Homo sapiens: one gene and its partners. The protein of the gene in region 1 purifies or fractionates together with the protein of each later gene. This does not show direct contact. Each region holds a gene or a part of one and is shown on either strand. Other genes may lie near its edges.

Evidence for each region.
Region 2: the proteins of PAEP (region 1) and SAV1 purify together in Homo sapiens (co-immunoprecipitation; 2 studies listed by BioGRID and IntAct, with this or other methods). This does not show direct contact.
Region 3: the proteins of PAEP (region 1) and KLHL22 purify together in Homo sapiens (co-immunoprecipitation; 2 studies listed by BioGRID and IntAct, with this or other methods). This does not show direct contact.
Region 4: the proteins of PAEP (region 1) and PROS1 purify together in Homo sapiens (co-immunoprecipitation; 2 studies listed by BioGRID and IntAct, with this or other methods). This does not show direct contact.

The regions. Positions count from the first base shown.
Region 1 is NC_000009.12:135,563,716-135,568,829, reverse strand, and holds the end of PAEP (glycodelin isoform 1 precursor), read right to left. Parts: intron 4,587-5,114; coding exon 4,476-4,586; intron 3,493-4,475; coding exon of another isoform or gene 3,421-3,492; coding exon 3,316-3,420; intron 3,046-3,315; coding exon 3,029-3,045; exon of another isoform or gene 3,000-3,028; intron 2,297-2,999; exon of another isoform or gene 2,278-2,296; 3' UTR 1,875-2,277; downstream 1-1,874. UniProt on the Homo sapiens protein: Glycoprotein that regulates critical steps during fertilization and also has immunomonomodulatory effects. Four glycoforms, namely glycodelin-S, -A, -F and -C have been identified in reproductive tissues that differ in glycosylation and biological activity.
Region 2 is NC_000014.9:50,633,080-50,639,720, forward strand, and holds the end of SAV1 (protein salvador homolog 1), read right to left. Parts: intron 2,306-6,641; coding exon 2,104-2,305; 3' UTR 501-2,103; downstream 1-500. UniProt on the Homo sapiens protein: Regulator of STK3/MST2 and STK4/MST1 in the Hippo signaling pathway which plays a pivotal role in organ size control and tumor suppression by restricting proliferation and promoting apoptosis.
Region 3 is NC_000022.11:20,484,514-20,493,927, forward strand, and holds part of KLHL22 (kelch-like protein 22), read right to left. Parts: intron 9,052-9,414; exon of another isoform or gene 8,746-9,051; coding exon of another isoform or gene 8,635-8,745; intron 8,629-8,634; exon of another isoform or gene 5,318-8,628; coding exon of another isoform or gene 5,255-5,317; intron 4,732-5,254; coding exon of another isoform or gene 4,699-4,731; coding exon 4,472-4,698; intron 1-4,471. UniProt on the Homo sapiens protein: Substrate-specific adapter of a BCR (BTB-CUL3-RBX1) E3 ubiquitin ligase complex required for chromosome alignment and localization of PLK1 at kinetochores.
Region 4 is NC_000003.12:93,871,981-93,881,394, reverse strand, and holds the end of PROS1 (vitamin K-dependent protein S isoform 2 preproprotein), read left to right. Parts: intron 1-2,080; coding exon 2,081-2,232; intron 2,233-4,203; coding exon 4,204-4,429; intron 4,430-6,989; coding exon 6,990-7,150; 3' UTR 7,151-8,344; downstream 8,345-9,414. UniProt on the Homo sapiens protein: Anticoagulant plasma protein; it is a cofactor to activated protein C in the degradation of coagulation factors Va and VIIIa. It helps to prevent coagulation and stimulating fibrinolysis.

The DNA of each region.
Region 1 (5,114 bases):
AAAAACAATTACCTGAAGCAGTTTCTTTCCTCTGAAATTGTCGATTTTAGGGTTTAGTTTCATTTGTTTCTGTTTTCATTTTATGGCTTGTCGCCTTTTACTTTTTGTTTTAATTTTATATTTTAAATACATAAAATGTTAACTGGTTCAAAAGTTAAAACTGCATGAAAGTTACACTTATAAAAGGCTGGCTTCGATTCCTACCCTCTGCATGCATTTTTATCCTCAGAGATGACCATACTCATTAATTTCCATTCATTCCTCCTGTGTCTTTTTCCAAATAGGTGTGGACAGTCTTAATTCCATTCTTTCTTGTATGAAAGTCAGCAAAGACCATGTACCTGCCTCTTTGCCTCATTTGTCTCACTTAATGACACGTGCTAGAGATTTACTCTGTGTCCATTTGTAGAGAACTTAAAGGGAAAGGGTTTTAATGTTTTTAACAGACTCCAGCATCTGCAGAGAAATCATGGTATTCTTGATCCTTTAATTACACAATTATGTCCAGAGATGTCTTCCGGGGGTGAAGCTCAGGTAGACGCCTCTGTGATTCTCTCACCGTGTGACTGGGTTCCAGGGGCACCGGTACTGTTCGGGGTGTTTGCTTCGACACACAGGGTGGTGTGGTGATGGAGCCAGCAGGTGCAATGGTTGCATGTGTGGGTATTAGACTCCCTGCCAGTCCATGTGCCACCCACCAGCTGGGCAATGAGACAGTAAGGGCTTCTGCCCCATGGGCAGTCATGAGGATGAAATGGCCTATTTGAGTGTTGTTGTTGTTGTTGTTGTTTTTTTGGGTTTTTTTTTTTTTGAGATGGAGTCTCGCTCTGTCACCCAGGCTGGAGTGCAATGGTGCGATCTCGGCTCATTGCAACCTCTGCCTCCTGGGCTCAAGCGATTCTCCTGCTTCAGCCTCCAGAGTAGCTGGGATTATAGGTCGTCCGCCACCACACCCAGCTGATTTTTTTTATTTTCAATACAGATGGGGTTTCACCATGTTGGCCATCCTGGTCCCGAACCCCTGACCTCAGGTTATCTGCCTGCCTCGGCCTCCCAAAGTGCTGGGATTACAGGTGTGAGCCCCCATGCCTGGGTTAAAATGGCCTGTTTGTTATATAGACAGTGCGGACGTTCCTTACTGCCTCACAAGTCCTAGTTACTCCTGGTAGGGCCTGGTTTTGTGGAGTTTTGATGGAGATATTTTCCCAGCATTAGAAACGAGTGTGGAAGCTTTGCCCCCTCCCCATGCCTGCGACTCTTCACATTGCCTCGTTTCACCTGTTCCCGAAAGGAGCAGGAGATCCCTGGCCGCTTGCCCGGCTGCTCTCGATGCTGGGGGCTGGGCTGGGACACAGACCTCTGACTGTGTCTGTCTGTCTGCCTTGGGAAGGGTCCTTACCTACTCTGTCTCCAGTCTTCTCTGATCTGTTTTGGATGCTTATATTTGCCTTGAAATCATCTCTTTTGGATTGTAAAAAATATATTCTGGAGTCAAATAGCATAATCCCTTATGACTCTTTTAATCTATTTTCTCTTAATCTGTGGTGATTGATACTTGCTGGAATTTTTTTTCCTGGGTGTTTCTGACAGGTGAGCTAAATCCTACCATGCCCACCCCTCCCCACCTGGGGGCACAGGTGCATGAATTTGATATGTTTCTCTGATTTTGTCATTTTTGCTTTTATCTTCCTTCATTCTATTTTCTTACTTTCCTCATTCTAACGCTTTTTTTTCTAACAAGAGCTCATTACAGATTCATTGATTTTAATTATTTCTTGCTAACCCATTTCAGTATTAAAGACTATGAGTTTTCCTCTGGGCTCATCAATTCTGATATGAGTGTCCTGGTTTTATTGTTCTAGACATTTCACAAGTTTGTGAAAGTGGACCCTTTTGTTTTGTAGATAAGAAACTTGAGGTATTTTCTCCACCAGAAGCTGCCCATGGGTCTGTAGGAGCTCCGGTTCTGCCAGGCGGTGGCCTGGGCCTGCCCCGACCCCAGGCCCTCGTCCCTGAATCCCACACCCAGCAGTGGCTGCGCATCCAGACAGGACATGCTCCAAGGGTTTATTAATAACCTCTGCCAGAGACTCTGCCCCCAGGGAGCAGCCTCCCCATGGCCGTGGTGCAGGTGTGCAGCAGGAAGGGGATGGCGACACAGATGACCACGTCATCGTCTTCTGAGCTGTGGTTATTCTTTGAAAGGGCAGGAGGAAGTCCCACTGCTCTGGAGGTGTGGAAGGGTGGGAGTCTGGTCTTCCTGGAGGCGGAGGTGAGCTGTTGGGTTTACAGGTCACTTAAGTAGAGGGAGGAAGAGCAGGGTGTTTCGGGGGAGCCCTGGAAGGATGTGGTGGGCTTGAGGACACCCCCTTAAGAATGTGGCACTGAAATCCCAGCACTTTGGGAGGCTAAAGCGGGGGGATCATGAGGTCAAGAGATTGAGACCATCGTGGCCAACATGGTGAAACCCCGTTTCTATTAAAAATACAAAAATTAGCTGGGCATGGTGGCACACGCCTGTGGTTCCAGCAACTCGGGGGGTTGAGGCAGGAGAATCGCTTGAACCCAGGAGGTCGAGGTTGCAGTGAGCTGAGATTGTGCCACTGCACTCCAGCCTGGTGACAGAGCGAGACTCCATCTTAAAAAAAGAAAAAAAAAAAAGAACGTGGGACCGAGACCTGCAGGTCCCCAGCTTCTCATGCCCTTCCATGTAACCATCCTCCTTCCTCCTCCTATAGCCCCCACCATTTCCAACCAACACCCCTAACCCCAAAAGAAAGCATGAGGTCTGACTATAGGGCACAAGCCCGTGACTAATACAATGGCTGCAAGACACAGGCTGGGCTCGTGAATGGGGACGTCAGCAGCCTGGCTTTCTGGAATCACAAGACCAGACCCCAGTTCATTCCTGTAGGGTCAGCCCTGAACTGGACACAGTAGGGTCTGTCCCAGGGGCCCAGAGAGGCAGCCGCAGACAGTGGGCGAGGCTGATACATTACCCAGGAGGCAGGACCAGGCAGGAGCTCACCTAGAAACGGCACGGCTCTGTGGGAGGAGATGGGACAGTGGAGGTGTCAGCGAGAGAAGAGACAGCTGGGGACACAGCAGCCCCAGGGCTAGAGAAGGGATGAAAGGATGGTGGGAGAGGGCAGGACCCCACCTCAGGGTGGCTCTGCACCCCAGAAGGCCAGGGGAGAACAGGGGAGGGGCCAAAAAGGAGTGACCTGAGTCCTGCAGAGCCAGCAGGGGGCTCGGGCTAAGAAAGAGGCAGCTTCTCCTCCAGCTGAGGCTGGGCGTGTCCTAGGCAGAGCTCACCTTCCATCTGTTTCAAGTCCAGCAAGTACCATAGGTGCCTGGGCAGGGGCCTGAAAGCCCTGATGAATCCCTGCATGATCTCATCGTCCTCCACCAGGACTCTGGCTGTGGAAGAGGCTGGGTCAGTCCTGGGCCCCTGGGGCTTCCATGAGAGCTGGGGAGCTCCAGAGGCCTTGCCTGAGGAGGGAGGGCAGAGAAGGAGGCCCCAGTGCTCCGAGGTCTGGCAGAGTTTGGTCTGGAGTAGGTCCCTAGGGCGGTCTCCGGGGCTCTGTCCACTGCACCTCCAGGTTCCCTGACCCCAGCTCCCACTCCTTGGCCCGGCCCCCTCTGCTCCGCTCTGGGCAGCGCTGGGGTCTGCACAGCTTAGGATGGTGTCTACAGCGTCACAGGAGAGCACAGTGCCTGGCTCTCCCAGTGCCCGGCTCTCACCAAGCATGGCTGAGGCTGATCAAGAAGACACCTGTGTGACCCCAGAGGAAACACTGTGCTCAGAAACATGGGGAAGGGCTGTGCCTATGTGGCTATTTTGGTATTCCTGGCCTTCGTTTGGTTGACAGCATCATAGGTTTCAGGGCGTTTTGACTGGACGCCCAGTGAGTATTAATCTATCCACCAAGCCCAGCCCCTTGACTGGCGACCGTCCCACTGGCCCTATATCAGCTCCTTGCTTTGTCAGAGGACTCGATGAACCGCTGGAGAAAAACTCAGCCTGGCCGGGCGTGGTGGCTCACGCCTGTAATCCCAGCCCTTTGGGAGGCCAAGGCGGGTGGATCACTTGATCCAGGAGTTGGAGACCAGCCTGGCCAACATGGTGAAACCCCGTCTCTACCAAAAAATACAAAAATTAGCTGGGCATGGTGGCGTGCGCCTGTAATCCCAGCTACTCTGGAGGCTGAGGCACGAGAATCGCTTGAATCTGGGAGGCAGAAGTTGCAGTGAGCCGAGATCACGTCACTACACTCCAGCCTGAGTGACAGAATGAGACCCTTTCTCAAAAAAACAAAGCAAACAACAAACAAATAAAAAAAACCAAGAAAAAAAAAGTCAGCCCACAGGCACCGAGGTGGACAGGAAGCCAGTTGTCAGCTCCCCAGGGTTCCCAGCCACGGACGTAGCTGCTGCCTCTCACCCACGTTGAGCTCATGTGCTGTGAGACCCACCCAGGTACTGGCACATCATGCTCTGGATGGGGGTGGTGGTGTCCTGTAGGCAGAGAAACAGGAAATTGTCGTAGTCAGTATCGAGCAGCGTGGCCTCGTTCGCCACCGTATCTGGGGAAAGAAGAGAAGAACCAAAAGGAAGATGAAGCCTCCGTCTCAGCAGAGTCCTGTGCAGGTGTGTGGACATCCCACCACACTAAGTGGCTTCCTCATCCACTGACACCATGGGACGTGGCCCCTGCTGTGGACCATGATCAGGGAAGCCAGGGAGGAAAGGGGAGGAGAGGCAATGTGGAGGGCCATGGAGCCCCGGCTGAGGGGGAGAGGCCAGGTGTGCCGTGGAGAGGCAGACACGGCAGGCAGGGAGGCTGTGACCTGGAGAGACTCCAACTGAGAAGTCACGTACGGGTGAGGATGGCGGGAGATGGCACAGGAACAGGGCACAGGGGCGGGAAGAGGGAGAAGAAATGGACCTTGGAGAGTGGCTCGATTCTGGGGAGGGCAAGCAGGGTCAGAAAGGCCTGAGGCAAGTCCCAAGCATGAGAAGCAAACTGTATTTGCTGGGAAAATGTGCCCATGAGGGGATAAGAGGCCCCAGACCCTGACCACCTCTGTCTTTTTAAAAAAATAATAATTAAC
Region 2 (6,641 bases), on another chromosome or scaffold:
GATATAGAATGATGAAGGTTTATCTCTTTTTTTAGACTCAAGATGCATTTTATTTAATGTTGACATCAGTACAAACTTAAGTTTCTATTTTACAAAACATGCTAATTCCTTTAGGTAACTTCTAGTTCTTAATGACTAAAATCTCTAGTGGAGTTTCACTGAACAGACTTCTTAGAGGAAGAAGGAAAGTGTGTTAATGAAAAAAGTAATACTTATCTAGGAGGTCCAAAACAGAGAAACTTCTAAAGACTGTCACAGAAATGGCTACACCATAATTAAGTAGCGATATAAAGTAAGAAGTGACAGGAAAGAACAATTAAGATAGAGGAGTGTGGGAGTTCATAAGATATATATACTGACATCTTAGAAAAGTCTGATCACAAGTTCAGCAAATTATCTTTTCCCAGTGATAAAATTCCACTAGCCACACTTTCATTTTTCAATACCCCTTTTCATTACCCCTTTCAATTATATTGATTCCTTTGTCTATGGCCTTTTGAACAGAAAAATGAAATACAGCACTATGTCTAAAACATGGACTCAAAAACCACGCGCTTAGTTTCCACAAAAATATATTTAATAAGCTTGTTATATAAAATCAAACACTTAACATTGTCAACATTTCTTCAGTTATTCAAACTCACTGATATCTAACTGGGAGTAGTTTGTATTCTGGAAGACTTCCTAAGCTAAAAGTATATTTACATATTTACAACACATGTAAATATAACTGAAGAACTACTTCAAATAATGTTGAAATTCACAGAATTCTAGAGATTTATAGTTATAGTTTAGAAGTATCACCAATTTGTTTGCAATCAAATGTACAGCACTAATTATGAAAAATGTTTTAACTATTAAACCAAAAGGGGAGAAAAACTGGGAGGGAAATATATGGTGTTAAAGTCCTGTGATAAATACTTAGAAAATTAAAAAGTAATAATATACATTCGATTTAATGACCAAAAATTTTTTTTGAATCCCTGGTTGTCATTTTTGGTAGCTTAACCCAGTCTGTCAGAAGGCAGTATGCTATGCTGTCAGGAACTCTCCACTGCCTCGTCAGAGCCATGCTAAATGCAGTAACAGCACTGGCTGAAAATAAGGAAGATGATGTTAGCAACTTTGAGTTTCACGCACCTTCCCAATACAGGCTAAGTATTCCTGCTTATATGTATTCCTGAAAGATTAAAAGGCCCGTCACCCATTCATACCAAAAAATACTTTCTCAACATGCTTTAAAAGGATTCCTTATTTTGTTTTTATTTTTTTATTTTTTATTTTTTGAGACAAGGTCTGGCTCTCTCTCTCTCAGGCTGCAGTGCAAGTGGTGCGATCTTGACCCTGCAACCTCTGCCTCTTGGGCTCAAGCCATCCTCTGACCTCAGCCTCCCAAGTAGCTGGGACTAGAGGCACACACCATCATACCCGGCTAATTTTTTTGTATTTTTTGTAGAGATGGGGCTTCACCATGTTGCCCAGGCTGGTCTTAAACTCGTGGACTCAAGCGGTCCACCCACCTCGGCCTCCCAAAATGCTGGGATTACAGGAGTGAGCCACCACGCCCAGCTGGGTTCCTTACTTTGGAGAGGGGAGACAAACATACATCATATATAAATATTTATCACAATAAGGTTCCAAATCCTATTTTATATTTCAACTACATCATGGTAATATTTAAACCATCCCTTTCCAGACAATATTTCACACTACAGCGGTAAACTTTTTTTTTAAAAAAATACCGCAGATTCTTTTTTTTTTTTAAAGAAGGTACTACTGCTGTAAGAAGTTAACAAGTAATAATTTCCTATTTAACATCTGTTCATAATGACATTTCCGCTGCGTTTTTTTCCATCAAGAATACCAAAACAGTTTCCTAATATACAGTATTTGAAAGTGTTTGCCATATTGGCTCTTAAAATGATAGACTAATTTTTCTCATTCAATAAAAGAAAATTTCTAATAACAAAATACATGTAAAGTTAGAATTTTATAATTTCCACAAAGGAAGCAGCATTTATTAACCAGAGTACTTGTTTGCAATTTTTTATCTGTGAAAATATTTTAAAGCTCTTACAAAACTTAAATTTTTAAAAAATCAGCTCAAAAATTTTTTCCATGTTGTTGGGCATACCACTGCTGTCTCTGCTTTCGGTTTTCCAACTCTGTAAGAAGGGCTTGTCTGTATGCTTCATACATTTTAACAATCTGCTCCAATTCTTTCATGAAGAGCAACTTTAGCATTCCCTGGTATGTATCCAGGTCAGCCAGCTGGAAGAGTTCCCACTTCAGAATGTGGTCATATCTGTTTTAAAACACAATCATATATATGTTCACAACACATACATAAACATGTATTTCTAGCAAGAAACTAGTCTGTTTTTTAAAATGTCAACTTTATTTATAACTAAACAAACCATAAGTTTTAATTAAAAATAACTGGGCACAGTGGTGGCGCCTATTATAGTCCCAGCTACTTGGGAGGCTGAGGTGGGAGGCTGAGGTGGGAGGACTGCTTGTGCCCAAGAGTTTGAGGCCAGCCTGGGCAACATAGCAAGACCCTGTTTCTAAAAATAAATAAATCAGTTTTTTAAAAATCTGAGTTATTAACTGCTATTTACATATAATTCTTTGTTGGTTTGTTTTTTTGAGACAGAGTCTTGCTATGTCACCAGGCTGGAGTGCAGTGGCGTGATCTCAGCTCACTGCAACCTCCGCCTCCCGGGTTCAAGCAATTCTCCTGCCTCAGCCTCCCAAGTAGCTGGGATTACAGGCATGCGCCACCATGCCCAGCTACTTCTGTATTTTTAGTAGAGACAGAGTTTCACCATGTTGGCCAGGAGGTTCTCAATCTCCTGACCTCGTTATTCGCCCACCTCAGCCTCCCAAAGTGCTGGGATTAACTTTGGGAGCCACCGCGCCCGGCCTACATATAATTCTTCTAAGCAAAGGAGAAAACTGCTAATATTACTTCATTTCAATTTAAGTTAAAGAATACCTATTTCTTTAAATTACCCATTATTCTAATATTAACACCAGACAACCTTGAACACAGATTTCAAACTACAGTGGTTCTATAATTTCTGAAGAACATATTTTGTGCTACTTATAAGTTCATCAAAAGTTAACTGTCAGGAACTTAAGAATACTTTAGACCATATTGTGCTTGCAAATGATAATGCACAAAAATGGATGGTCATTTGCATCATTCATGTTGATGCATCTTTTTGAGGAATGCTATTCACAACAGCAAACAAGGAACCAAACAGAAGGAGAAATGAAGAGGAACCCTCAATTCGTGGCTCTAAGTATTCTTGAGGCTGAGTACACAGCATCTAAAAAAACAAACAGGAAAACTAAAGAAGGAAAGAATAAACTTTTTAAAATGAGAGAATGAGTAGACTATAGAAGGCTTCAGTGTGGTGAAGGATTCACAAAAGATTCTGTTTACATATATCATGGAAGACCATTAGTAGTCTTTCAGTGGTAAGTAGATCCCTGCTTAGCAGTAGTACCTTTAGTAGTCGGCTACATAGTTCCATTTCAGTATGTGATGAAGACAGCACTGTAATTAATATTCTCATTTTAAAGATGAAAAACACTAAAACCTAAAGAGGCTCTTTACCTCTTGCAAAAGTGCTTAGTGACTAAAAGTTCAAAAAGGAAGAGAACTATGGACCAAGATGCTTCAAAATAGTGGTTTTCAATGTTAATATCCACTAAGACTAGACAAAGAACTTGAATTAGGGAAACGCATGTTATACCCGAAATTATACCTCTCAAATCATACTGCAGAGCAGACATAATAGGAAGCTTTGATTGCAAACTCTAGCATTATTTTTAATGATCGTTTATAGTATTTCCTACCCAGTGGTTCTTTGATATTATACCATTTTCTTTCAAAAGGACTGTCTAATATTTTAAAATGAGATTTTAAAAAAGGGAGATAGAAAACATACCGAGCAGTTAGTGTGAGCCACTATACTTGGCATTTTGACATGTTTCTATTCAACTTGAGTATGTGTAACAGAAATGTCAGTAATACAACATGCAAAAACTGGAAGGTAAATATATTTAATTGGACTGCCAATTTCACTCAGTTACTTGAGAGCTGCAAATTTATTAATAGATTTAGATTTCTTTGGTAGGAAGCTCTGTTCTTTTTAATGGGAAACTCCAACCACTTGTGAACATAAATTAGAGTGATACTGTAAGAAATACTCAATGAGCCTCCATGAAGAAACAGTTATAAGGTATTTCTTAGAACATCCACCATTCTTGTAACTTAAGATTTTATGTGCTCCTTGGAAACAAATTCATAATTCCTAACAAAAAATCTTAATCTCCCAGAGTTAGCTAAGAGGCAATTCAGCAATGTCTACTAAGTCAAGATGGTTACCATTTATACCAGGTGAACTACAACAATGTTAAACTAATCTATCATCTGTGTACTTTCTAGCAAGGAAAACAAAGAACAAAAATAAGATGGTAAATATTATACTTATTTTTAAGACACGAATATCATTCTGTATAAGTATTCAAGTTTTGTCTAAAGGAAGAAAAAATCTTCAAACAATTTTGTCAGTTTTTTTTTTTTTTTTTTTTTTTTTAAGAGATGAAGATCTCCTATGTCTCCCAGGCTGAAGTGCAGTGGCTAATCACAAGCACAATGCCACTACTGATCGGCACAGTAGTATTAACCTGCTCCCTTTCCAACCTGGGCCAGTTCGCCCCTCCTTAGGCAACCTGGTGGTCCCTGCTCCTGGGAGGTCACCATACTGATGCCAAAGAGTACAGACATCCGACTGGCATAGTGCATCACAGCCCAGAACTCCTAAGCTCTAACAATCCTGACTCTGCCTCTCAAGTAGCTTGGATTACAGGTGCACCACCATGCCTGGCCAAGTTTCTGACTTGCCAATCAGCATTCAGCATCAAGAGTACGATTATGGGTAGAAGCAACAAAATCAGATTAGAGAAAATCCTTCTGGGGGAAGAAAGTGCACTCCAAGAAGGGCACAGATGTGAAAAAACTGCAAAGCATGGAATGGAAATCCTATTCCAAATTCTTTCCTCTGTTGCTTCTACATAGTTACTACCCTTCTGCCTATAATCACCTAAGTGTTCCTTCTTTTTCTGAAAAGTATAAACTCCCATTCTTTCCTTCTTAACTAGCCAAGAAATTTGCTTCCACAAGTTTAACTTTTAGTCATTTATACTGTATATACACAGGTAAATCATTCCGAAAATTGGGTGTAAAACACTCCAGTAGTCCATGCTTCTAGCATCTCTTTCACTCTGTTTTTCCTAGGGCAGTATTCTATTCAAATACTACTTATAAATAAGCCATATATACAAATGCCAGTTGCTATAATGCTACCAAAAATAACCTGTCCACACTGCATGCTGACTTCAAGATCAACAGTGCTGCTATCCTCAGCTCCAGGTATCACCATGTAGCCTAAGTCCCCTGCACCCACCCGCCATAACACTGTGTCCACTCCTCCCTCTTTTTCACCTGTATCCAGAGCAGGGTCAATGGTGACACTGCAGGACTGCCAAGCCACTGGAATAAAAAATACCCCTGCCACACACTGCTGAGGACTAGTGTTTTGGTGTGTGTGTGAGAAATAACAGAAAGTAAATATGTTCTTGACAATGTTTTTGCTGTCAAAGATTAAATTTTATTTTATTATATTTTATTTTGAGATGGAGTCTCGCTCTGTCACCCAGGCTGGAGTGCAATGGCGCAATCTTGGCTCACTGCAACCTCCGCCTCCCGGGTTCAAATGATTCTCCTGCCTCAGCCTCCCGAGTAGCTGGGACTACAGGCGCGTGCCACCATACCCAGCTAATTTTTTGTATTTTTAGTAGATACAGAGTTTCACTGTGTTAGCCAGGATGGTCTCGATCTCTCGACCTTGTGATCCACTCGCCTCAGCCTCCCAAAGGGCTGGGATTACAGGCATGAGCCGCCGCACCCGGCCTAACTTTTAAAATTTTATCCTATAGTTCAGCTTGAGTACAGTTATACCAAGCATTATAGACTTTTGTGAGCAGACACAGGAACATAACTTTACAAAAATTAAATACAAATTTAAAACACAGTCTGTTTCTAAATCAAGTTTTAGAAGTATATGCAAAAATTGTGTTGGTAAATTACTGTGAGAGATAGGATTAAAGAATTTCAGGATTAAAGAATTTCAGATTCTCAATTGTCTGAAAAACAAAAGGAAGAAACATGCAAATTTTTTTTGCAAAAATGTCTCTTTTTGTTGTGATAATTGATTCTCATTATCTAATTCATAGATAACCACTCACCCTTTGTTGATAGAATATTAACCATTTCCATCCTCTTCAGCAACATTAATTAGAATCAACTAGAAAGCAACAGGCTTCCAGACCTCTTGTTTAAGTTTTTAAGCAGTAAAGAAGTATAGTACTTGCTCCCTTTTTGTCAGTCTGGCCCATTTTGGAAGAATTACAACCTATTTGCTAGTTTCCTTGAGTTTTATAGTTAGCTCACAGAACCACAGAATTCAAAAAGACTATAATCTTCAGGAATCTGTTTCTTTCTGTAAGAAACCAGGAATTCCATTTAAGTACTATCTCTTCCCCCAAAAAGGAAAGATTATGCTATT
Region 3 (9,414 bases), on another chromosome or scaffold:
TGAACTCCTGGCCTCAAGTGATCTGCCGGCCTTGGGCACCCATTGTGCTGGGATTACATGCATGAGCCACTGTGACCAGCTCTAATTTTTGTATTTTTTGTAAACATGGGGTTTCGTCACGTTGCCCAGGCTGGTCTCGAACTCTTGGGCTCAAACAATCTGCCCACCTTGGCCTTGCAAAACGCTGGGATTATAGGTGTGAGCCACTGTGCTCAGCCTTTTTTTTTTTTTTTTTACGAGAAAAGAGGTCTCTTACTTTGTCATCCAAGCGAGAGTGCAGTGGCATGATCATGGCTCACTGCAGCCTCAACCTCTCAAGCTCAAGCTATCCTCCCTCCTCAGCCTCCCAAGTAGCTGGGACTATAGGCCACGCCACCATGCCCAGCTAATTAAAAAAAATTTTTTTTTCTTTTTCTGAAACTGCTCTGAAAAAATTTAAATGGCATTGGAGTCTTTTCATAAAAGGCACACCTACCCTGGAAAACATCTGGGCTTTGTGTTTTGTGGGGAATACAACTTTCTCTCTCTTTTGGGGATAAAGTGCTATTAATTTTTTAAAAATAAAATCATCAATTGTATCCAAACTTTTAAAGTAACAGACATTGAGTTCAGCTAAGCAGTCTTTTATAATTCACAGATGGAATGAAAACTAAGGGAGGGACGAGGTGACCCATGGAGGTTGTATAAAAAGGACAGAGCCTTTGGGCTCTTCAGACTATAAGGGTCCAGGAGGAGAGGAGAAACCACCTCAGAAGCATACAAGGTTAAAGCATACAAGGTGGGTGTAGGGTCAGGGGAGCCAAAGTAAGTGTGCAATGAAAAGTTATTAACAAAAGTCAAAAAAAGAAAATGCAGTCTGGCCATCCAATTCCTAAACCATGTACAGAGTACACAGAAAGAGCACAGGAGGCTTCCTGCAGCAGGGCAGTACAGCTCTCTGCCCTTCAGGAAAACTGAGATTCCTCCACCTGGGAAACAGCAAGGGACAATTAGGGAAAGCTCTCCAGAGGAGGAGGCATCTCAGGTGGGCCAAAGAAGAAAAATTTCCACAGGACAGAAAAGGCAGAGAAGAGGCCAGGCATGGTGGCTCACGTCTGTAATCCGAACACTTTGGGAGGCCAAGGCAGGCGGATCACCTGAGGTCAGGAGTTGGAGACCAGCCTGGCCAACATGGCAAAACCCCGCCTCTACTAAAAATACAAAAATTAGCCGGGTTTGGTGGCACACGTCTGTAATCCCAGCTACTCAGGAGGCTGAGGCAGGAGAATCACTTGAACCCGGGAGGCAGAGGTTGCAGTGAGCCGAGATTGCCCCACTGCACTTCAGCCTGGGGGACAGGGCGAGACTCCATCTCAAAACAAACAAACAAAAGGCTGGGCGTGGTGTGGCTCACACCTGTCATCCCAGCACTTTGGGAGGCCAAGGAGGGCAAATCACAAGGTCAGGAGTTCGAGATCAGCCTGGCCAACATGGTGAAACCCTGTCTCTACTAAAAATACAAAAAATTAGCCGGGCGTGGTGGCGCACACCTGTAGTCCCAGCTACTCGAGAGGCTGAGGCAGGAGAATTGCTTGAACCCGGAGGCAGAGGTTGCAGTGAGCCGAGATCACACCACTGCACTCCAGCCTGGGTGACAGAGTGAGATTCCGTCTCAAAAAAAAAAAAAAAAAAAGAAATTTATGTTCTTTGTAAAATAATTCAGACAATGCAGTAAACAGAAGAAATTCAGCCTCCCTCTCCCTTTGCCCTTTGCTGAGTCCCCACGGTGCAGCAAGATCCTTCCAGATCTTCATGGTTGGGATCATCTTCCACCAGGTCCTGAGGTTTTTCACTCCCTATCAGTAGACACACCACACTGCCCAGTTTGCAAGTAGCTCCATTGGATAACACAGAAAGGCTCTGTCCTGCACCATGTCTCAGCACTGGGTGCATCGTCCCACAGGAATGACACCTAGACACCCAACATACAACTGCAGGGCCCTAAACTATGGGCCAGCCCACCCCTAAATGCCCTTCTCTCTACCCTTGCCCATATCAAATATTACAAGCCTCTCACACATATTTACCAGTCATACTGGGAAAAAAATAGTCCTTTATCATTTTAACATTTCACAAGTAACTAAAACAAATAATAAACATGCTAACACTTGGGAATGGTCTATTTCTTTTCTTTTTTTTTTTTTTTGAGACGGAGTTTCATTCTTGTTGCCCAGGCTGGAATGCAGTGGCGCAATCTCGGCTCACTGCAACCTCCGCCTCCCGGGTTCAAGCAATTCTCCTGCTTCAGCCTCCTGAGTAGCTGGGATTACAGGCATGTGCTACCACGCCCAGCTAATTTTGTATTTTTAGTAGAGACAGGGTATTGCCATGTGGGTCAGGCTGGTCTCCAACTCCTGACCTCAAGTTATCCGCCCTCCTTGGCCTCCCGAAGTGCTGGAATTATAGGAGTGAGCCACCAAGCCTGGCCTCTTTCTAGGCTCACTGCAACCTCCGCCTCCTGGGTTCAAGTGATTCTCCTGCCTCAGCCTCCCAAGTAACTGGGATTACAGGCATGTGCCACCACGCCCCGCTAGTTTTTGTATTTTTAGCAGAGACGGAGTTTCACTATGTTGGCCAGGCTGGTCTCGAACTACTAATCTCAGGTGATCCACCCGCCTCGGCCTCCCAAAGTTCTAGGATTACAGGCGTGAGCCACTACATCCAGCCTCTTTTTTGTTTTTTTGAAACAGGGTCTTGCTCTGTCACCCAGGCTGGAATGCAGTGGCACAATCTCGGCTCACTGCAACCTCCGCATCCTGTGTTCAAGCAACTCTCCTGCCTCAGCCTCCCAAGTAGCTGGGATTACAGGCGCCCACCACTACACCCAGCTAATTTTTTTTTTTTTTTTTAGTAGAGACAGGGTTTCACCATGTTGGCCAGGCTAGTCTCAAACTCCTGGCCTCAAGTGATCCACCTGCCTTGGCCTCCCAAAGTGCTGGGATTACAGGTGTGAGCCACCGTGACTGGCCTCTATTTCTTATTTATACATACACACACACACCCCCCTGTGAAATGACTCTGGGCTCTTCCAATAATGTTGCCACTCTCCCGCTCCCCTTCCCAATGGAAGTGGAGGGATGCAGGGGGTGTTAGTGATGCATTGTAATCATCCCGGAGAGCAGGACACCTCTCATAAGAGGTTTACCCAAGGGGGGCTGTGGAAAGGGCTAGAAATTGCTCCTGGAGGACGTGGAAAGCCACATAAGGTTTTTGACAGATTAGCGAAAGGCTGCCTACACTGTCATCTTCAGAAAGAGTGGTATGACACTAAATCAAGAAGGGCTGAGAGGGTGAGCCCAGGGGATCCCATAGGCTCCACAGCCTCTGGCCATCCTCTCCTATACAGGTCCTAAGTCCCCTGCAGGGGGCCCTCAGCTCCTCTACCCTACCCACTGTCCTGTATGTTATCTTAATGCTTATTAAAGGCCTCAGCTGAATTTCCCTGGTGAACTGAAAGAATTCTGCTGCTCCTGGACACATCTGCACCAAGCCACCACTGGGTCACATTCTCCAAAACTCCTTTTGGAGACAGAAGGCACTTAAACCATACATATTTTGCTTGATAGTTCCTAATTAAAAAAATAGAGAGAGATAAAGAGAAAGAGAGAGAGAGAGAACTACAACTAAGCCTTGAAGACAAAATGATTGAACAGAATCAGAGCTAGAATGGAACACCTCAGGCTTGGAGTCCCATGACAACCTTGCTGGGGACCACGAGTGGCCCTCAGTCCTTCTCAGGCTCATGCCACCTATGTGAAATAAGGGTGGTGACACCCACCTCCTTGAGTGCAGAGCAGTGCAGACAACAGGGCAAATGGTGTATTGATCTGCTATCTGTGTACATAAATTTATTCATTTAAGCCATGGGTATTGTTTGAATATGTGAAAACCATGTCAGGTGCTAGGGATAAGAGACAGATTCCAACCCAGTGGAAAAGACAGATAAGCCAGTGGTTCCTCACACTGTGCCAAGTGCTGGGATGGGGTCACGAAGGAGGCCATAAGAAACCCCAGAGGGGCCACAGAGCTCACTGGGAGGGCCAGAGGCTAACACCTGAGGGATGAGAGGTGTGAGCCAGAAGGTGATGCATACACAGCAATAATTACTGACGGAGGGGAGGAATGGTAAGGGAGGGGAGGAGAGAAAGGAGGAAAGAAAAGAGAAAAGAAAAGAGAGAGAAAAGGAAAAGAAAAGGAAGAGAAGAGAGGGAAGAGAAGAGGAGGCAAAGCCCAAGAAACAGGATCACTGAATGAAAAATGAACTCTAAGACCCCCTTCTGTCTCTCACACTTGTTGACTAAGTCATAGCCACAAGGAGTAGGGGAGGCTCTGAGGTGAGCAGGAGACCAGCCACTGTCACCGCCAGTACCTTTACTAGCAGAGCCAGGATTACCTTTGTTATTCTTCTTACAAACAGCTCTAGTGAACTCACCTGAAGTAATCGCAGGACGCAGCCAGCAGGATGCGATGGGCCTCGATGTGTCTGCCCTCCACCACCAGCACAACATCGAAGAGGATTCCGCTGTCCCGGAGAGCCAGCAGCCCTCGGAGCAGAGCCTGGGAGTGCTGTGCGCTGCGGTAGGTGTTGTTCACGCAGTGTGGGTGTGAGGGCTGTGCAGGCAACTTGCAGAGCTGGGTGAACTCCTGCTCCTCTGCCATCCTGACAGCCACAAGATCCCTTACAACTGTGGCCTGACAGTTGGCAAAACAGGGGACAGGGGTGAGCAGGCAGGCATCAGCCCCACCACACACAGACTGGCCAGCTCTGTTGCTCCCCTTGCTCCTGTGCCTCCCTCAGGCTCACCTGTTTTCCCTCTATTTCCAAATCCCCTAATTCCTTCTCCCCTCCCACCTCTAGTCCAACTTCCTGATGGCCTTCTTCCTGATGACCTGTGTGCCATCATGCCCAAGACTCTTCATCTCATTGTATCTTCTTCAGCGGCAAAGTCAAACAGAAGGGTTTTGGGAAACAGACTGACCTGGGTTGGAGCCCAACTCCACAGGGACTTACAACATGACCAAACTGAGCCTCGAGCTCCCCAATTTTAAAAAGAGAGATAAAAGTACCTACCCCATTGGGGTATTCTAAAATTGGTAAAACAATGAACATGAAGCATAAGCACACACCAGGTTCTCAAGAGCTCTTCCTCCCTCCCATTGAATGAACAAAATTGGGTTCTTCCTCATAGTAATGGATGCATAAAAATGGCAAGACCTGAGTAGTGGTCAGGAGACACACAGCCAGGAGTCTGGGAGGTGGGTGCCAAGGGGGTGGCATTTCCAGGGCCTACTTTCCTTTACTGAAATTCTGAGAGTCAAGCACAGTAACTGTGATTGAACCTGATGCATTTAAATTCATCTGCATTGCCTTTTAAATTAAAGATTATCTTCTAATAATTGAGTCAGTACGTTCAAAAACCGCAAACTGATTTGAATTGGAGCCTCTAAAACCTAATCAGTAAAATGAACCTACTGCAAATGCACTTTTGCCATGGAGCAACCAAAAGTGACTGTGGATAGCCAGCTGTTCAGGTCAGGGAGTGGCCAGTCCCACACTGTGAGGCATGGCCAAGCTGCAGGCTCTGTAGGCACAGCACAGTCAGCTACAAGATGTGAACATCTGTCTTCTCCACCTCACTTCATCCTACTTTCCTCTCCCCAAAATATGTTTATTCTCCAATTACCTCCAGTCATGCATCACTTAATGTTGGGGATACATTCTGAGACTTATATCGCTGGAGGCAATTTCCTCAGTGTGTGAACATCAAAGGGTACACCTACACAAACCTAGGTGGTAGAGACTACTACACATCTAGGCCATAAGGTACAGCCAATTGCTCCTAAGCTACATACTTGTACAGCATGTTACTGTAGTTCTGAATGAAAAAAACACACTGTTTTTCCTCTCCTCTTATACCACAACAACAAACACAGGAGACTTCTGTGACCAAATGTGTGAGGGTTTTTCCCCATTAACAAGCAAGCAATCAATTCTGCCACAGATACCAGCTGGGTGTCTTCTAATTCAGCAGTCCCCAATCTTTTTGGCACTAGGGACCACTTTCTTGGAAGACAATTTTTCCACGGGGTCGGGGAATGGTTTCGGGATCAAACTGTTCCACCTCAGATTATCAGGCATTAGCTAGATTCTCTTTCGGAGCACACAATCTGGACCCCTCACATGCATGGTTCACAACAGGGTTTGTGCTCCTATGAGAATCTGATGCCACCTCTGATCTGACAGGAGGTGGAGCTCAGGTGGTAATGCTGGATCACCCTCCACTCACCTCCTGTTGTGCCACCTGGTTCCTAACCAGCCACAGACTGATACAGGTCTGAGGCCTGGGGGTTGCGGACCCCTGCTCTAATTCAACTCTAACACTACCTGGAGACAGTGTCTGATCCCACAGGTTGAGGGCTGAGTCTCCCAGGTTGTTTCACCTGTGCTTCTGACCAATAGGCTATAAATTGGGTTCCCAAGATCCCCTTCTTGGGTTCAACTAATTTGTTAGAGCGACTCACAGAACTCAGGAAAATACTCATGTCTACTGGTTTGTTATAAAGGGTATTGCAAAGGATACAGATGAAGAGATGCATGGGGCCAGACATGTGGGAAGTGGTGCAGAGCTTCCAGGCCCTCTCCAGGAACATCACTCTTTAGGAGCCTCCATGTGTTCAACTATCCAGAAGTTTTCCAAACCCAGTCATTCAGAATTTTTATGGAAGCTTCATTATGTAGGCATGACTGATTAAATCACTGGCCATTGGTGATGAACTTAATCTTCAGCCTGTCTCCCCTCTCCGGAGGTTGAGAGGTGAGGCTGAAAGTCCCAACCCTCTTATGCCTGCCTTGGCCTTTCCTGTCACCAGCCCCCATCCTGAAGCTACCTAGGGGCTGCTGGCCAGCATACAAAAAGGCATCACTCTGGAAAGTCCAAAGATTTTAGAAGTTGTATGCCAAGAAATGAGACAAGACCAAATATATATTTCACAATATCACAGTACTGAATACTATAGGCAACTGTAACACAATGGAATTTGTGTATCTAAACACAGACAAGGTACAGTAAAAATATGGGACCACCATCCTTCATGTGGTCTGGTCTGTCATTGACGGAAACATCACTGTGTGGCACATGATTATATATCTTTAAAAGAAAAAATGAAAAATATATGCTGATATAAAACTTGCCAAAAAGAAGAGGTCTCTCTCTTCACTACTGAGGCTCAGGGCCACCCCCAACCCCATCCCCTGGATGCTCTACTGCTTCCCATCAAACACACTCAGTTATCTGTGCCTGCCCCTGAGTCTGCCTCCAGGACCTGGGACCTCTATCCAGCCACCCACCCATTCCTTTCCCCCTCCTGGGCTGGCTCATCTTTCTCACCAAGGCCCCAGAGATGGCCACAGCCAAGGTGTATACCCCATGACCACCTCTCACTTAGGATTCTCTTGCCTGGAAACTCTGCTCTATGATAATTCTCCCTTTTCTGACCTCTCTCTTTCATCCCACACACCCTGCTCGAGCCCATCCTTCTTTCCCAGTGGTTCACATTCCCAGTTTCACCTACAGCTCAGTGCCTAATCTAGCTAGTAGCCCTCCAACTTGTCTAATTTTACTATCAAAGCTACCATTTCCATCTTGGAAACCTCACTGTTTTAATATTTTTCCTTTCTAACCCATGTGCCCTATGAACCTACTAGTTCTGATTCCTTCACCTCTCCTCCATCTCAGACAGCCACCCTCCACTCCTCCAGGGCCACCACTCTGGGTCAGACCACAGCAGTGATGCCCCTACCAGTTTCCCTACCTCTTGTCTCATCCTCCCCAGGCTGCTCTCCTTCAAGCCTTACCTACTCAGCCCCATCAGCAGTCCTTAGTCCAAAAGGGATACCTGTCATCCCCTGAACACCTTTAGTCACCCATCTAGGCCATTCTGTCTCTCATAGTCCCATATTGGTCAAGGTCTAGCTCGATTACTTCTCCCTCTATCATTGTACAGAGAACATGACAAATATGCCCCACCATTCAAACCTGCCCTTTTTTTTTTTTTTAGACGGAGTCTCGCTCTGTCACCCAGGCTAGAGTGCAGTGGTGTGATCTTGGCTCACTGCAACCTCTGCCTCTCAGGTTCAAGTGATTCTCCTGCCTCAGCCTCCCCAGTAGCTGGGATTACAGGCGTGCACCACCACACCCAGCTAATTTTCTTGCATTTTTAGCAGAAATGGGGTTTCACCATGTTGGTCAGGCTGGTCTCGCATTCCTGACCTCAGGTGATCCATCTGCCTTGACCTCCCAAAGTGCTGGGATTACAGGCATGAGCCACCGCGCCCGGCCCAAACCTGCCTATTTACCCACGACAAGGAGATTCCGGCTTCTTGAGGGGTGAGGTTTTATCTCACAAACATCTCAAAAGCCCCCATGGCTGGCTGTACCACTTGCTAATGACAGACTCTGGGCACTTGTCTCATATACCCACGCCTCAGCTTTCTCATCACCACCATGACCACCGCAGAGTCAAGAGGGCCTCCTTCTCTGAGGGTGACCTCCACAACTACCCCAATAGACATCAAGCCCCCAGGTGGATCCTCACCTTCCGTGAGCATAGTAGTGCCTCTGCTCTCTTGGGAAGGGATAAATGGCAGCTACTCCCTAAACCCATACTGCAAAAACAAGTACGGTAAAACAGAAAGACATCTTCCATGGGCAGGCAAAGCACATTTACCAAGTCCAATTTAAGAAACTTAGCTAGGGGCTAAGGGGGATATGCTGAAAAATGAATCAATTCTCTGCTGGGAAGGAGCACAGCACAGGGTGCAACATTTAAAACATTTAAAACCACATCTATACGGTTTTAAATCACCAAAACGTCCACCCTCAGGAGAACAGATGTCATGGCACAGTGATCTGACAGAACATTAGGCAACAGTCAAAATGCGCAAAGTGGCCGGGCGCAGTGGCTCACGCCTGTAATCCCAACACTTCGGGAGGCTGAGGCGGATGAATCACGAGGTCAGGAGTTCAAGACCAGCCTGGCCAACATAGTGAAACCCCATCTCTACTAAAAATACAAAAAAATTAGCCGGGCATGGTGGTAGGTGCCTATAATCCCAGCTACTTGGGAGGCTGAGGCAGGAGAATCACGCCACTGCATTCCAGCCTGCATGACAGTGCGAGACTCCGTCTCAAAAACAAAAAAACAAACAAAAAAACAATGTGCAAAGTAGGCTGGGCACAGTGGCTCATGCCTGTAATCCCAGCACTTTGGGAGGCCAACGTGGGAGGATCACCTGAGGTCAGGAGTTCAAGACCAGCCTGGCCAACATGAGGAAGCCCCATCTCTACTAAAAATACAAAAATTAGTGGGGCGTGG
Region 4 (9,414 bases), on another chromosome or scaffold:
TTTCAACCCCTACCCTCCTCCCACCCTCCCATCTTTCGTAGTCTATATTTACTACATTTGTTTGTTTGTTTTTGAGACAGGGTCTCTCTCTGTCATCCAGGCTGGAGTGCAGTGGTGCAATCATGGCTCACTGTAACCTAGACCTTCTGGGCTCAAGCAATCCTCCTGCCTCAGCCTCCCAAGTAGCTAGGACTACAGCCACATGCCACCATGCCTTGCTAATTTTTATGTTTTGCAGAGACAGGGTCTTCCCGTGTTGCCCAGGTCAGTTTTCAAATTCCTTAACTCAAGTGATACTCCTGCCTCAGCCTCCCAGTGCTGGTGTTACAGGCATGAGCCACTGTGCCCAGCCTTTTTTACTGTATTTTTAAGGACAAATTTTACAAAAATGATTTCCCTTTTTCTAACACAAATTGATACAATGCCTAGTTCTGTTCTGCCTATGAAAGATTTTTTTAAAGTTATAAATGGGGTGAGGATTAAATTAGGATAAAACTAAATCCATGGTGATTTGGCCAAAGGAAAAAAATCCTGAAAAGGTAATGAAAATAAGAGTTATATTGTATCTAAAAAAATTACTTTAATAAGTAATTAATCATTTCATGGATAATTTGTAAGTGATCTACTTTGTAATTAATATTTAATGTTACATTTTAACTTCTATACATTCGTGTGTTCATTTTAGTTTGAGTTTAATATTCTGTGTTAAATTTACTTATTTCAAGATAAATGTTTAGGTGATAGAAATTCCAATTACCCTGATTTGAGCATTACACATTGTATGCATTTATCAAATGACATATGTACCCCAAAATATGTGCAATTATGATATATCAATTAAAAATTACTTATTTCACAATGATTACATATAAACATTCTTTTTTTTTTGGAGACAGAGTCTCACTCTTTTTCCCAGGCTGGAGTGCAGTGGCGTGATCTCAGCTCACTGCAACCTCTGCCTCCTGAGTTCAAGCGATTCTCCTGAATCAAGCCTCCCGAGTTGTAGCTGGGACTACAGGTATACACCACCATGCTCGGCTAATTTTTTGTATTTTTTTTTCAGTAGAGATGTTTCACCATGTTGCCCAGGCTGGTCTCGAACTCCTGAGCTCAGGCAATTCCAAAGTGCTAGGATTACAGGCATGTGCCACCGTACCCGGTCTATATATTTTTTTTCTTCTGGATGGGAGTTACAGGATTATAATGAAAAACAGTGACATTATATGTGGCTAAGTGGAAGAACATCTTGTCAAAGGAAAATGATTTTCCTTATTCACATTTACCCTTTCAAGGGCTCCGTGTGGTATTTGGGCTTTGCTGTATGTTACATCATATTAAATGAGGAAGACTTCATTCAGATTATGAACTAATATTTTTAGTAATCCAACTATTCTGGAAACATATTAATTCAACAAATATCTATTGAGTGAGTGCTGGGGAAAACAAAGCAATGATAGAGATATATACCTCCTAGAGCTTGCATGTTAGTGGGATAGACAATTAACCTAGTAATTAAGAAAGAGAATGTGAAGGATTATGACAAGAGATTCACAAAACAAGGGTTCCTATTCTGATTTCAAAACTAACTGCTGATGTCAGTGTATTTCTCTAGTATCGAACTATCCAACTCTCCTATGTATATAGATCATATTTATCCTTTGGAGTGATGATGGCAACTGTACCCAGATTTTCCCTAAATTATTACAGTAAATTTGTTGAATTTTCAAACGTGTGCTTGGAAATATGACCACTCTGAGATTTGAGCATTGGTGAATGTGCAAGGGAGAAGGAAGCACTGTTAAAGAGCAAACTGGGAAAATCCATGATAATCCTTAACACCACAATCCAGAATTCTCTTCTAGGAAGAACGGGAAGATGGTACTCCATTTGCATGTTTCTTGCCTGCATTACAAAAAAGTTTGTTTTGTTTTGCCTAGGTTATATAGATCATTGAGAAAGGGAATGGAAATAGTATTACACAAGATAGTTTTGAATATTACCTGGACTGTGTTAATAATAATTCCTTCTGATGCACTTTAGGAGTGCATTGATCATGCTTCTGTTTCATTATTTTAAATAGATAATGTATCCAGTGCTGAGGGTTGGCATGTAAATGTGACCTTGAATATTCGTCCATCCACGGGCACTGGTGTTATGCTTGCCTTGGTTTCTGGTAACAACACAGTGCCCTTTGCTGTGTCCTTGGTGGACTCCACCTCTGAAAAATCACAGGTAACTTAACTCTAAACCTATATAAGCCTTGTTTTTCTTTTCATTTTTTAAAATGTATACATAGCAGTATTTACCTCAAAGGACTATTTTGAAGATTAAATAAAGTAACTTATGTAAAGTGTTTGGCACAATCTCCAGCACATCATTAAGGACTCAAAAAATGTCTATTATTGTTACTTTTTTTCTGGCTTGTTTCCAAGGTCTGAATGAAGAAGTAAGGGGAGGGAGGAATGAAAAACCTACTGCATCTATACCTAAGATTAGGCAGACTCTCACACAGGCTGCTTGGAGCCATCCGAGTACATAGAGATCCACCCTTATTAAGAATACTTTATGTGTTGTGGGAATTAGTCTGTACTGTCAACATAGAAGTGAGTCTAATTACAGTGCACTGTCAGATATTCAGTGCTTAATTATAATGTTTTGTTCTTTCTTACACTCTTAATCTTTTCTCCCAAGAGTAAGTTAGGAAAAAAGAGAGAAAGTTAAAACTGGTCCACTTGGTTTCTTACTGGCAACTCTTATTTGAAATTAGGAGGAAGAACACGAAAAAGCCTTAGATGAAAGGAAATATGAGGGTTATCAGAAAATCTGTATTATTCAGACTTCTATTAGAGCATAGTCGTTCTGTCTATGTGTCATCCACAGTGCATTCTAACAAGTTACAGCAAGAAGCTGATGTTTATGCCAAGGCTGACTTGGATGCTTTCAGTAGATTTTAGAAAGAGACCTGTGGTTGAATAATGTCTATTGTAGTAAAACAAGTTATGCTGTTTGCAACTTAAAGTATGATTCAGGGAGGAGGATGGGAAGTTTCTGGTGGTTAACCATAAGTAACCTAAAAATATCCTGATGAGTTTTTTTTTGTTTTTGTTTTTGTTTTAATCTCCTGCCTTTAAGGAGCTTTCTACATTTGGATTTCAGGGGTTTTTTGTTTGCTAGTTTGTTTTTCTTTTTAAACAAAATGGAATTCTTATCTTAAACACTACATTCATGCAGTGGAGGAGGTTAACGCATGCCATGTCTTTGATATTTAATTTATCCTTTGAGTGTTTGCCTCCGTGGTTCTTTCTTTGCATGTCAGATTTCCTTCTCAAGGTCTATGCAATATTTCATAACATTATTCCAGATATCATTGATCATTTTGGAGCATTTTCTTTATTGACAATCTCTTTTAATGAGTTTAAGGATACGGACATGTACAACACAATAACAGATTTCCTCAAGTAACCTATATTTGCAAAGTTAGTCTTTTCACTTAAAATAGGTATCTTGGATTCCTAAATAAACATTTCTGATTATGTTTTTATCACTTTCCTCTATGCCATATAAGCTATATGAAGAGATCACACTCAACACATTGAGTAATTTAGGCATAACGGCAGTTTGAAAGGTTCAGCAGAATGAACACATTTTCTTTCTGTAGAATCTTCTGGTAAATGTTCTATAACGTGCTGGTGGCAATCCCTGGTTTTTCTTTCTCAGGGCCTCTTCATTTATTTTATCCCAAGTCTGTAGGATTGCTTGTGTGGCACAAAGAAACCTGTTAGTCCTGCTGGCATATGCTTACTAAAGCATTTTAAATTTCCCAAGTCTTTTCTCAACAAAGAGTGATTCAACTCCTTCCCTTTTCATATGTAAACTTGGAAATTAGGAAGGCTCATAAACAGAAAGATATAAGACACTCCTATAGGTTCCGGTTGTTTTACGGAATTTTCAGAAACCAGTATACATTTATATTTTAGCTAAACTTTGAGTTTGTAAAACTAATGTGTATTTTAAATTTTAGTCATAATTATTATAAATTAGTCTTATAATAATTAGTGATTTTTCCCTTAAATTTAGAGGCTCTATCATACATTTTCTTTCCTTATTGAAATTTAGTTTTTGACTTTCAAAAACTCAAAAGTCACTCTTAAGCAGCATTACTCTTACTCCTTGCTTATATTGAATCTTTGCTCTGCTCTTCAGGATATTCTGTTATCTGTTGAAAATACTGTAATATATCGGATACAGGCCCTAAGTCTATGTTCCGATCAACAATCTCATCTGGAATTTAGAGTCAACAGAAACAATCTGGAGTTGTCGACACCACTTAAAATAGAAACCATCTCCCATGAAGACCTTCAAAGACAACTTGCCGTCTTGGACAAAGCAATGAAAGCAAAAGTGGCCACATACCTGGGTGGCCTTCCAGGTATCTGCTTACTTTTTCTTCAGTTTTAAAAAGTATATTTTAATCAAACCGATAATATTTTAAATATATAATTATAGTAAAAAAGCATCAGAAGGGAACATAAAATCCAGTATTCATTATTCTTTTTCTAGGGGCTAGTACCGACATTTTATTGGCATATTTTTGTTTTGTTTTGTTTAGTTTAAAAATGTTGAACTAAGGCTGATCAAGTTTTGCTTCATTTGGCTATCCCAGCCAGAAAGGATATGTTATTTTATTTCATCATCACAATAGTCTTATAAGTTCAATATTTGTTCTAATTTACCCAATATTTATTCATCTATTATTCAGTTCATCTTATCATTTATCCAGCTTTTTTTTTTTTTTTTTTTTTTTTTGAGATGGAGTCTGGCTCTGTCGCCCAGGCTGGAGTGCAGTGGCACGATCTCGGCTCACTGCAAGCTCCGCCTCCTGGGTTCACGCCATTCTCCTGCCTCAACCTCCCGAGTAGCTGGGACTACAGGTGCCCGCCACCACACCCGGCTAATCTTTTTGTATTTTTAGTAGAGAGGGGGTTTCACCGTGTTAACCAGGATGGTCTTGATCTCCTGACCTTGCGATCCGCTCGCCTCGGCCTCCCAAAGTGCTGGGATTACAGGCGTGAGCAGTGACAATAGTTGTAGTATCTAACTACCATCAACTATTGCAAAACAAACAGTCTGGGCACTGTTTAACGTGCTTCAAATATATCCACTTGTTTAATTTTCAAAATAGTCCAGTGAGGTAAGTGCTATTATTATCCCCATTTTACAGATGAGGAAACTGAGGAAGCTGCAGGACCAGGGTGATAACAATGAAGATGATGGACAGTAAATAGATCGGAGATATGTGTTAGAAACAAAATTAATAGGATTTAATAACTGAAAGACAGGTATAAGGATGACTTTTAGGTATCTGGCATGAGCAGTTGCATGGATGGAGATTCCATTTACCAAGATGGGGAAAACTGGAGGAAAAACAGATTCATCTTTAACTGAATATTGGAAAATATGAAATTGGCACCAATATTTCACTTTAAATGGAAAATTAGAGGCAGAAAGTTATTTAGAAGCATTTTCAGATGACATTTGCAATTTATTCTCATGGGGAGAATTCTGAGTTTGATGTCTGGACCTCTGATAACCTTCAATATACTGCTTAAACTGCTCATGGTCTTGATTTCCCATATATGGAAATTGTATCTGGGGTTTTGGGAAATAGAAGTAAATAGGCTTTAAAAGCTATAGAAAGACAGACAGATAGATAGATGATAGATAGATAGATAGATAGATAGATAGATAGATAGATAGATAGATAGATAGAGGTAAGTAGTGAGCATGCCTAATTATTAGGGAGTAAAATTATAGTTTAAATGAATAAATTCTATATTGAAATCTACCTACTACCTTATCCACAAGTTAGTTGAATGCAATTTTAGGAAATCAAACCAACAAAGAGTTTAAAAGAAGTAGAATTATCAAAATTTCAGTGGTTTCGGGATTTTGGCAACAGCACTGAGGACTAACTTCAGGCAAAATGTCTTGAGAGAAAGAGTGGGGAAGATTTGAGAGGAGCTAAATATTGAGATATTAAGAGTATAAACTGTGAGATGGGTAAATTATTAATTACATGCAAAGTAGGCATGTAAAATTCCATGTGAAGTACTAAAACCCAAGAGAAATGAATGATTTTGAGTAATTTCTTTCCTCAAAATCGAATGAATTTGAGTAATTTCTTTTCTCAAAAAAGGAAAAGTGGCATAATCTATGATGTTTAGCCCAACTTGAAAGGGATTCTTAACAAATGCTATGAGCTCACAGTCATAGTAAAGTAGGAACTTTATTCACTGTGTTGGCAAGTTAGAAGTTGAAAATTTAAAGGTTTTTTTTTGGCATAAGGTACTGAAGATGAAGAATAAGGGCTAAAGAATATCCATTGTGAGTTAAGATTAATGGAGAGGAGAGGCCAAAAAAGAGGAAGGAAAATTGTTATTTTTAGGAACTCTAAATAGTACATGAAAGTGAATCCTGTATCATGACCTATTGTATGCTCAACAAAAAAATTGTTTCTTTGGAAAAATACAGAAATCTGCTTTTATTCCAACAATAATAAAAGAGATATATTGATCATGACATTTAAAAGAGATTCCCAAGTAGCTATAATTTGGAGTTAAGAAAATGATTTAACAATGCTTAAACTGTTGCTTAAGTTTAAAGAGAAAATAGTATGTTATTTGTATAATAAAAATAGAATATCACAAGAATATGCTTGTTTCTACTCTCCCTCAAATGTGTTTAAGTTTAAATGGAACTAATTGTGTTTATGAAATCTGAGGAACTCATGACATGCTGAATTCAATGAAGTACAGTAACATGTATATCGGCGTCACTTAACATGTATTTATGGAATAGAATTTCACTATTAACTTTTCCTTTAGGATTAGAATTTGGTTGGAAACAGGAAGTCTGAATGACTTCTCTCACTGTAAACAAACAAGATGCTAAAAGTCTTGGACTAATATTCTAATATTTTCCTTTTACAGATGTTCCATTCAGTGCCACACCAGTGAATGCCTTTTATAATGGCTGCATGGAAGTGAATATTAATGGTGTACAGTTGGATCTGGATGAAGCCATTTCTAAACATAATGATATTAGAGCTCACTCATGTCCATCAGTTTGGAAAAAGACAAAGAATTCTTAAGGCATCTTTTCTCTGCTTATAATACCTTTTCCTTGTGTGTAATTATACTTATGTTTCAATAACAGCTGAAGGGTTTTATTTACAATGTGCAGTCTTTGATTATTTTGTGGTCCTTTCCTGGGATTTTTAAAAGGTCCTTTGTCAAGGAAAAAAATTCTGTTGTGATATAAATCACAGTAAAGAAATTCTTACTTCTCTTGCTATCTAAGAATAGTGAAAAATAACAATTTTAAATTTGAATTTTTTTCCTACAAATGACAGTTTCAATTTTTGTTTGTAAAACTAAATTTTAATTTTATCATCATGAACTAGTGTCTAAATACCTATGTTTTTTTCAGAAAGCAAGGAAGTAAACTCAAACAAAAGTGCGTGTAATTAAATACTATTAATCATAGGCAGATACTATTTTGTTTATGTTTTTGTTTTTTTCCTGATGAAGGCAGAAGAGATGGTGGTCTATTAAATATGAATTGAATGGAGGGTCCTAATGCCTTATTTCAAAACAATTCCTCAGGGGGAACAGCTTTGGCTTCATCTTTCTCTTGTGTGGCTTCACATTTAAACCAGTATCTTTATTGAATTAGAAAACAAGTGGGACATATTTTCCTGAGAGCAGCACAGGAATCTTCTTCTTGGCAGCTGCAGTCTGTCAGGATGAGATATCAGATTAGGTTGGATAGGTGGGGAAATCTGAAGTGGGTACATTTTTTAAATTTTGCTGTGTGGGTCACACAAGGTCTACATTACAAAAGACAGAATTCAGGGATGGAAAGGAGAATGAACAAATGTGGGAGTTCATAGTTTTCCTTGAATCCAACTTTTAATTACCAGAGTAAGTTGCCAAAATGTGATTGTTGAAGTACAAAAGGAACTATGAAAACCAGAACAAATTTTAACAAAAGGACAACCACAGAGGGATATAGTGAATATCGTATCATTGTAATCAAAGAAGTAAGGAGGTAAGATTGCCACGTGCCTGCTGGTACTGTGATGCATTTCAAGTGGCAGTTTTATCACGTTTGAATCTACCATTCATAGCCAGATGTGTATCAGATGTTTCACTGACAGTTTTTAACAATAAATTCTTTTCACTGTATTTTATATCACTTATAATAAATCGGTGTATAATTTTAAAATGCATGTGAATATCTTTATTATATCAACTGTTTGAATAAAACAAAATTACATAATAGACATTTAACTCTTCATACAACGAAGTAGTTCTTCAGTTAAAAGACAGATAAAGCTCCAATATTTGAATAATATTTATGGTTGGGTGGTAGACTGGAGCTCAGAAGGTGAAGAGAAGCAAAAGTAACATGTATCTTTTGACACAAACCATAAATTGTCTTGCTAAATATAATTTGTTTCCCAATTGCCACCAGGTACTATGGGGGATGAATATCAGCAAGTGACTATTGATAATTACATTCATGTAAAAGAGCAAGGAAAAAGAAAAACAGAGAAAACATACATGAGAGAGGGAAAAAAAAGTGAAAGAAAGGGGCGGAGTTCCCTGCTTTTCATTTGATTATGCCACATACAGGTCAGATATAGGGATCAATTCTACCTTTCACATCAGGAGCAGAAACCTTCCCACATGCAATGATGCTCGTAGAGGCTCCAGAGACGCATTTATAAATTTCATCTACCTTTGAGATGTGCTCATACATGCCTAGAGAGAGGGTCTAGACCTATGGCTAAGAATCTTTGATTGATGTTTAGTTTTGAACTTTGCCAAGAAATATAGATTCCTACTTTTAAAGAGTTGGTAGAGAACAAGGCAAAGTGGATATTTGGTGCCATTTCAGCTTTGTATATAAGTAAAAAAAACTCCAAATAACAGGGCCATTACAGAGTCCCTTAGAATTCACCTTTTGAAAAAGCTTTCTTTTTTCTTTTTACTTTTTGAACATGTTATGTGAGATGGTAATAGAACTTAACCATTTGCAGCGGTCAGTGATGGATCAGTGAAAGCAATGGTTAATCTGTAAGAACAGGACTATTCACCTAATTTCTCCTGTCTGAAAGTATAATTCTAGTCTCAGTCCCTATATGCCAATACAATAAAGTATTTCCAATTTTCTTTTCATTCTAGAATTAAGGAACTGGTGGGATTACTGGAAAGAGGACTTTTTCATGTGAAAATTTTTCACAAAATAATTGCCTATTTATTTTTGCATTTCCCTGGACCTTTAGTTGCTATCATCGGTGGGAACTGAAATAATAAAGAAGATGAATATCTGAAATAATTTTTAGATTTC